Linked DNA regions of Homo sapiens: region 2 is linked to region 1. The links come from fine-mapping of genetic effects on gene expression. A gene starts in region 1. The other region holds a variant in brackets. All regions are shown on one strand. Distances are between the middles of the regions.

Region 1 (4,408 bases):
TTATCCTGTGTTGTTTAATGTTATTAATTCAAGACTTTGAAAAGCTCCGTAGAAACAGAATGCATCTTACTGATAAGAATGTGGCTCTTACTGTTGAAATCTCATCGTTGTAATTACACATTATTCAAATCAGGTACTCAGTAGTGAAAACTACTCGTCAAAAGCCAAAACATTTCTACTAGGGATTTTGATGTCCCTGCAGGTCAATAAAGTCATAAAGCTCTGTCACTCTAACGGCAACATATTTTATTAGCAGCCAGAGTCCCTCACATACATGTTTCCTGCCACTTTCAGAGATGTAAACAATTTCCATTTTGAAATATATGACCAGAATCCTGATTATTAGAGCTTAGCACTGCATTCATTAAAACACACATGCTGGCATCGAAGCATTCATGAAACATTATTTCTTCTTTCCAATAAAAACTAATGATTACCACCCCTGGTGTGATTCATTTCCTCTACGAGAATATTTGAATTAGAGCAATATTTTCAAACTTTTCATGGCACTACATACATGGTGTTTTTTTTTCTTCTTTCTCTCTCTCTCTCTCTCTCTTTTTTTTTTTTTTTTTTCAGTCTTGCTCTGTCGCCCAGGCTGGAGTGCAATGGCGCGATCTTGGCTCACTACAACCTCCGCCTTCCAGGTTCAAGTGATTCTACTGCCTCAGCCTCCTGAGTAGCTGGGATTACAGGCACCCGCCACCAAGTCTGGCTAATTTTCCTACATACATGTTTTATAGACCGCTCATGGTTAGAATCATCTTTCATTTATTTCCTTCTGTAGGTTTAAACATTTACATCACTGACATTAAATCCAAATTTACTGAAGACGTATGCACATTTACCTTATTCTGGGTGCTAGGGTCTCTCAGCTGACCACAGCTTCTGTACTTTGCAGTGGTTATTTCACACCAAAAAGTGAAAACAGATTCAGTGAATAGGTGTTCTTTTCTCTATGTATTAAAACACGTTCTTCAAAATAGTGTATTGGCTAGCATGAGTTTTTCTGTATAAAAAAGTCAAGTTTCGCCCTATCAGGTGCTTCTAGGTCTAACCGGTTTTCCTGTGCTACTCTCCAGTGTTACAGCCGGGGGCAGCAGAGCTTTGTCCTGCCTGCCACTCCCGTGATGAGTGAAGGCAGGAATAAGACTGCCCTGGTACTTGCCCCTGATGCAGATCATTAGACCTTGAGCAGCTGCTCAGGTCCATTAACAGTCACTTAAGCAGCGGGTAAGGGAAGCTGTGCTGCTCTGAATTAAAGGTGGGGCTGATAGCTGGGAATGGGGAGGGCTCAGCTGCTAGTACCCAACATATATATTGTGTCACATTTGGGGACACTTTTTTAAACATCATGGAGAGGTTATTTATTGGTTGTCACATACGGTAGGTGAAATGTTTTGCCACAAGTTTTGCCACAAAATGCTATATCCGGTTTAACTGTTTATTTTGATGGCAACTATTATTATTGAATATTTAGGTGGAGTCAATTCTAATGTCAGTCAAGACATATTCATCCCTCCATGTACTGAAAAATGCCATACAAATCTGTATATATGCTTCCTATACTGTTTAACCACAGCTGCTAGTTGACGTTCTTCAGTCCTGGAAATATCCTTCCATTTTCTAAAAAGCAAAGAAAAGTAAAATTTTAAGTAAGCAGTAGAGCAGATGTAGCTTAAAACCTCCAAATTATTTCAGGCCTCAAGCTGCTTTAAGGCTGTATTTTAAGATTCAGTACTTTTTTATTTGTTTCAACAGGAGGATTAGAGGATTGAAAATGCTTTATTGATGGAAAGTGGGAACTGTTACTCCCCCCACCTCCTCTACTCAGCAAAACTAAAAGAGAAAGCAAGTCCATTCAATTCCCAGCCAGATCTTTAAAATGTTAACATCAAATGAAAAGACATTATTCCTAAGTGAGAAGAAAAACCTTTGCATCACTGTAAGTTACCCATCATTTCCCACTTTGATTTATGCATGTGTCATTAATTGAAATTGTTCAGGAATCACCTTCAAATGGTTTTCCACAAAAATAAGAGGAAAAACCAACTGGGATGGGATATCAGTATCTCCTCTATTTAAATACAGGGTCCTGTTAGCTGCATTTGGTGGCTAATAGGGAATGATACTGTGTGCGGTATACTTTCATAATTCCAAGTACAGTCAAGTACATCTAAAACAGTCATTGTTGAATAACATGGGTAATTTAGTATTATCCACGCTATTCCACTGGCAGAATTGGCCATGACTGTCTCCTAGGTCATCATCCAGCGATAAAGGGAAGATAGGCTGAGGAAGCTCTGGCATTCAGGCGTCTCCCAGCGATGAAGCTGTGTCCCACACAGTTAGTTGTCAGTGCGGTGGTGAAGGCCACACCTGGCAGTGGCTACAGTGCGTCTCCTGTGAGCAGGGGCTGTAGCTCACCCTCTCGGAGCTACGCCGTGCTACGGCGGCAGGAGAGGGAGCCCGGGCGCTCTCGGTGGAGGAGGCTGGGGATCGCAGTGCCGGTGCTGCATTCAGAAAAGACTCAGCCGCAGCCGGCGATGTGTGAAGTTCCCAGCACGCACTCAGCCCGGCTGCTCCTCACCCTCAAATGTTGATGAGCCTGGGCGCTCCTCAACACACGGGAGAGATCCCATTTTGCTTTCTGGGAGAAAGAGATGAGAAATGAGCCGCGGAAGGTATTTGGCAATGAGAAGAGTGAAAGGCAGTTTCTTGCCAGCAGCTAAGTTGTAGAATTGCTTCGGAGGCTACCCGGGAGTGCGATAGAATTGACAAGAAAAGAACAGACACCGTTGCAGACCAAGGCATGCCTGATTGCACGAGTCGGATCCCTGGGACGCAGCTTCCACTCCTGTTCTAACTATTTGTGATTGAAAAAAGGAAACGAGACTAGAAACACAATTGCAAGTGGTGTTCCTAAAAGGAAAACACATACACTCCAAAAGGAGGGGAAGAACAACCCAGTTGGCGTGCACATTTTTTTTTAAAGGAGAATTCCTCAGGTATGTTCTTTCCTCCGTTGCACGCACTGCTTCATCTGCATGCGATTTTCTGTCTGTATTTTCCTGTCCCTTCTTTTTGTTTGCACTTGGAAATCACAACCATGGGGTTCTCTTAGCGTAGCAGATATATTTGTAAAATCTCGGCTCTCCTGTTTTTATAATGTACATGATTCTATGGAGCATCATGACTTCTCAGTCATTGCTTTTAAAAAAAGAATTCAGAATGATAAATGACTGCTTAGTTTCCAGTCAACTTTCAGGAGAATATCTACATAGGGACAAATAGGGTTGAGATGAAAGGCTGGGATATTCCATAACCCCTCGGAATTTTGGAAGAAAAAAATAGAGCTCAACAGAGAACAAAAGTTGAGGGCTTCTAGGAAAGGGTTAAAAGCCAAGATGTCATACACTAGTGTGTCACCCAAGTGTTTTTCCAGCTCAGCATCCAGTCTGAAGCAAAAGAAGCTTTACCAATGATTTTTTTATTTCTAGCTCTTCATCAGTTCTTCAAGAAGAAGATCCTGCAGATTTACTTTCAAGAGATGAATTGCTTAAATTGTGTGCTTGGTTCTGTTTTACAACTGTTCTGTGGTGCTCAAGGAGGCAGTCTAAAAAAATCCCTTTGGTCCAACAGCATGAGTAAACCCTAACTTCTGCAATTACATCATCAATATACTTGTATCATCAAGAGTAAGACAGATATACAACAATAGTAATGTTGGCTGTCTTTAGTACCTAGACGGAGATGACAACACTTAAAAATCAATTTTCCTCGTTAGGCTTTTAAGGAAAAACAGGAAAGAGGTTTGAGGGTGGGTAATGCTTATAAAGATTAGTTTTAAAATACTCTGCATTTCTTTAAGAAGCTAAAATTGTAAGTTTATATAATTTTGAAATTAATAAAAAACTTAATGATTTTTAGAAAATCATCTTACCACCTTTTGCTCATCAATACTTTTCATAAAAGTGGGTTAAATTGTCAATAAATTAAATGTGCATATGTCTATATTAAATGAGATTTTCTGGAGGGGAGAAACGAGAATGAGAAAGTACTACATTTTTGTATATATAAAATATTTAATAGATTTTTAGTGTTAACACAGAGTTAATGCCAAAGCTCTAGGACCCTGGCTTTTAATTATTGTTGTTCCCACTTTCTTATGATTAAAAAGTTCAAATGCAATAGAGGTAAGTGGGCTTTAAATTGTCATTTATGCATACTGTAAAGTAAATCACCACCCTGCTCTTTGAAAACTATAAACCTCATTTTTGCCAAATGGTAGCTATCTGGAGCACTTAGGCCGTAAACAAAATGAGGAAATCATTTGTTTTAAAATTCCACGCATGACTATAACAACAACAATGTCAAAATATGGTAAGTATAGGCAATTCTTGATACC
Region 2 (4,408 bases), 650 kb after region 1:
TCTTATCCCCTAGACTTCCATTTTCTTTCACATTATTTCAGATTCTCCCTAAAGTACAAAGTTTAGTTACCAGTGTTTCCTGGAAATCAAAATGTTTCATCAGAAAAAAATCACCTGTAAAAGGAAGGAATTTGGAAGCTGGTACTGCTGAGGGCTAGATGTACATTCATTAGAAAATCAAGAATATGAGAATGAACAAAAATAAGGGGTGGAGGAAGACAGACTGTATCTACCATATCACCACTTGGCCTTCTTTATTATGTTGACACTAACAAGCTGTCTTAGGTGGTTGTTAGGAGAGGCCACACACTTGACAGGTCTAACTGTTACCATAGGAAAGAATCGGCATTGAATCACCAGGCTCTGCTGGAATTGATTTACTCTGGATGGAGATTTGTATCCAATTTAGCATATTGTGAATAGTGCTTGATGGGCTGTGCAGTGTATTCCCCTGAGAAAAGACTCCTAGATATAATAGCTTATTCAAGATTTGGAGGTAAAGTGCGAGGAGTAGTAACTGATATTGAAATGGGGAGGTAAAGTGCGAGTAGTAACTGATATTGAAATGGCATATAAATTCTACCAAGAGGTACCCATTACCCTGGCCTAGCCCCCATGACCCCTTTCCAACTCCACCGCACCCGCAATCAGGAGATTCTGCCTCGACTGATTAAGTGTAACATAGTATCTTAATTCCCATTTTTTTCTGTCTTTTCTATCTAGGGAAAAAGTCATTTTAACATTCGCTTTCTAAGCCAAATTTAAAGGGTTAAAATACACTGATATCCTATTTGCCAACATAATAATCAGATCCAATGTATACAGTTTTCAGCAGTATTTGAGAACCATAATGATGCCTAGTGGAAGTAAAGTTTTTGCTCAAAATTTGTATTTTTAATCCACACAGCATTCTCGGAAAGGAAAATCGACCAGGGGCTTATGAACTTCATCTCTCAGTTAAGGATTACTGCTTTGCCAGAGAAGATCGAATTATCGGAATGACAGTCATTCAGCTACAGAACATAGCAGAAAAGGGAAGCTATGGGGCATGGTATCCTCTTCTGAAAAATATCTCTATGGATGAAACTGGTTTGACTATCCTTAGAATACTCTCTCAGAGGACCAGTGATGATGTGGCTAAAGAATTTGTAAGACTTAAATCTGAAACAAGATCTACTGAAGAGAGTGCTTGAAACAAACACTGCAAGCTAAATACATAACTATAATTGTTTGACTACTGCATGCATGTGCAAATACATGGGAATGTTTAGTTCACTACATTTCAATGTTTGCCAGTACTCATGTACGATGTCTACAAGGTATGTAAAAAACCTGCTGAACTTTTATACCAATTCTGGTCTTTGGGAAATCAGTGTTCCATGAAGTGCCAAAATTATGATGTAAAGTGAAATATCAAGAACACCTTTTAACATGTTTATTTTGTTTCTTTACCCATTTCACATTCATTAAACATAATTTTTAAAAACTAGTCTTTTGAGTTTGCCCATCAGTTGTCTTTGTTAAATGAGATTATATTGCCCATAGATCAGAAAACATTTATTACTCAATTTCCATTTTATTTACTTACCTCATTATAGATGTCTTACAAATACCCTTTTCTACCATAACTAGAAATGCAGTCACTTCTAGAAAGCATTTGTAATTTTATAGTCGCAGATATTGTGATTTTTGCATACACATTAAAATAGAAAAGGTGGGAAATATTTTCTGCTGACCAGTTTCCAACCTTTCTGAAATATCACTGTGAAGAAATGCTGTTAAAGCAAACTTACATAAAGCAATGCTAGAGTTTGTTAACAATGTTTGATATATATTGACAAAACTTTGTTCTCTAAAACTGCCAAGATCACATCACATTTGTAAAAATGGTAAGTTAATGCATTTGTCATATAGTGTTATGTCTTGGCTTTACCATATTTCATTCTTTAAAAAGTCATTAATGGTTTAGAAATGGGATGGAAAGTTTACTGAAAATACCTGTAAGTAACTATATTGTTAATATCTTCCCTCTGACAGTTATGACTCTATAATCAGTTCAATGCTTTATTTTTAAAAATATTCAATGATTAGTATTGAATGCAGCATTACTATATATTGTACTGATGCCAAAAGTCATGTTTTCATCCACTTAGTGAAAAAATAGTAAAATTAAGTCGGAAGAAATTGCTTAAAATTTTGTAATTTGTATTTATAAGCCCCAAATGCATCAAATGCAGTAGGAGAACAATGTAATACAGCTTGGTACCTAAAAATATAGCTAAGTTGGTTTTTGAATATAAAACAGTTTATGAATATGTGCATTTTCTGTATTGTTATGATTTGACTTTTTAGAGTCTATGCCAAAATATATGGCTGTAAAACAGTACTTTGTAATTATAACTTATGGTCATAACTGTTAGTGGACTACTTACAGAAGCAGAAACAAGAGCCTGTTATGATTGTGCTTTGTGAACAAGCTGATCTAATACGT[T/TAAGTA]AAGTACAGAAGTGCTTAGTATCATGACTGTCAGAACCATTCTGCAACTGAGTATGAAATCACAGACCAGTGAGGTGAGCTAATTCATGTTAAACTGTTAGGCCACTGCTTTGTTAATGACTCCTCTAAATGCATAGTGTGATGCGATCCTCTGGCATATGCTTTAATAAATGGATGTATATTGAGCACATGCAGCATTGTATTGTATCTTCTGCCTTTTTATTTCATTTATGCAATATCATCTCATTTAGGAATAAAAACTCCAGGCTCTTTTGACCATATGTAATAGTCTTCATATTATTTGGTTCTAACATCTCATTAAAAGTTTAGATGTCAGAATGGTTATTATTAAAAAGTCAAAAAATAACAGATGCTGGCGAGGTTGTGAAGAAAAATGTTTGTTTGTTTATACACTGCTGGTGGGAGTGTAAATTACTTCAATTATTGTAGAAAGCAGTGTGGTGATTCCTCAAAGACCTACAAACAGAATTACCATTCGACTAAGCAATCCCATTACTGAGTACACAGCCAAAGGAATATCAAACAAACATTCTACCATAAACACATATGCACGTATATGTCCACTGCAGCACTATTCACAATAGCAAACACATGGAACCATCCTAAATGCCCATCAACAGTAGACCAGATAAAGAAAATGTGGTACATATACACCGTGGAATACTATGCAGGCATAAAAAGAATGAGACCATGTCCTTCACAGTGACATGGATGGAGCTGGAGGCCATTACCTGAAGCAAACTAACACAGGAATAGAAAACGAAATACTACATGTTTGTTATCACAAGTGGAAGCTAAACGATGAGGACACATGGACACTAAGGGGGCAACAACAGACACTGTGGCCTACTTGAGGGTAGGAGGAGGGAAAAGATAAGAAAAAGTATCTGTCACGCTACGAAGCTTACTACCTGGGTGACAAAATAATCTACACCAAAACCCCCGTGACACACAATTTACCTACGTAATAAACCTGGACATGAACCCCTGAATCTAAAATAAAAGTTTTTAAAAAAAAGTTCAGATGTTAAAATTCATTCCACAGGTGGTGTGTTCATGGAAACCACTGTATATTGTAATGACGAGGAAAATAAGGATGAACTAATGTATCTACCTATATATTGCTAAATACCGTTTAGTCCCATGAACAAAATTCAACATGCAACATGGTTAAAAATCTCACATGATAAAAGTTTTCATCAATTACTTGAAAAATTCATTCTAGATTTATGTTATAAATATTTTACAGAACATTGACTTAAGCTCTTTAGGAGCACATATTAATGTCATAATACATGATACATTTGAGTAAAAGGCAGTTAGGATTTGCATTGATCACTTTAAATTGAGCAAGGTATTTTTTCCCTGACATGTTTAATTGCATCCAATTATTCTGTCTTTTACAATGTATACAATATATATCAAAGCCTAATAGTGGCAGGGTGAATTAAGTCTATTTATGACTATCATAAAGTACAGGTACTAATTTTGAAATGATTATAAATTCTGTAGACTCTGTTTTCCTCTCAAAGCACAAGTATTCCCGTTGTCTTCAGAACAAAGCCTGTTATATTTACTTACCCAAATTAGTAGTCACTCTAAGGTTCCCAGTGATCTCTGTCAATTGAGTGTTGCACTAATGTGTGTAGCAATTTATTCATCTTATTCTAGATAAAACACACAAAGGCAAAGCTCTGTTGCTTGTCTATGGATAAACCTCACATTACAGGTCTTTAAAGATACACGTGTAAATCAAATTTAGCAAACACAAAGTATTTAAACCCAGAGTGGAGTATTTGCTATTCGAAGGAATTTGAATGCATTAAGTAATCAGATGTCCCCACTACAACCTGCGCTAATTTATCTACTTCTAGGATAATTTATAACTTGAATTTA

Alleles and levels. Alleles are on the strand shown, and positions count from the first base shown. SD is a standard deviation of normalised expression in the study named.
In carriers of allele T in region 2, the expression in cerebellum of the gene that starts at base 2,522 in region 1 tends to be higher than with TAAGTA alone (small effect, 0.27 SD a copy in GTEx).

Evidence for each region. PIP is the estimated chance that this variant, and not a neighbour inherited with it, causes the effect. A credible set is the group of variants that fine-mapping cannot tell apart.
Region 2: its variant is the best candidate, but not a certain one, in a credible set for the expression of UNC13C in cerebellum (GTEx, PIP 0.83).

What each region holds. Positions count from the first base shown.
Region 1 is chr15:53,975,920-53,980,327 of GRCh38, forward strand. UNC13C (unc-13 homolog C) reads left to right here and starts at 2,522. Exons shown (of 33, transcript NM_001080534.3): 1 at 2,522-3,008. LOC124903495 (a long non-coding RNA gene) reads right to left here. Exons shown (of 2, transcript XR_007064646.1): 2 at 1,431-1,626.
Region 2 is chr15:54,625,921-54,630,328 of GRCh38, forward strand. It overlaps UNC13C (unc-13 homolog C), which reads left to right. Exons shown (of 33, transcript NM_001080534.3): 33 at 908-2,685. The coding sequence ends at 1,193. Among named protein-coding and RNA genes, the nearest start is that of RSL24D1, 570 kb to the right of the region's middle. The variant T/TAAGTA (reference allele first, on the strand shown) is at 2,492.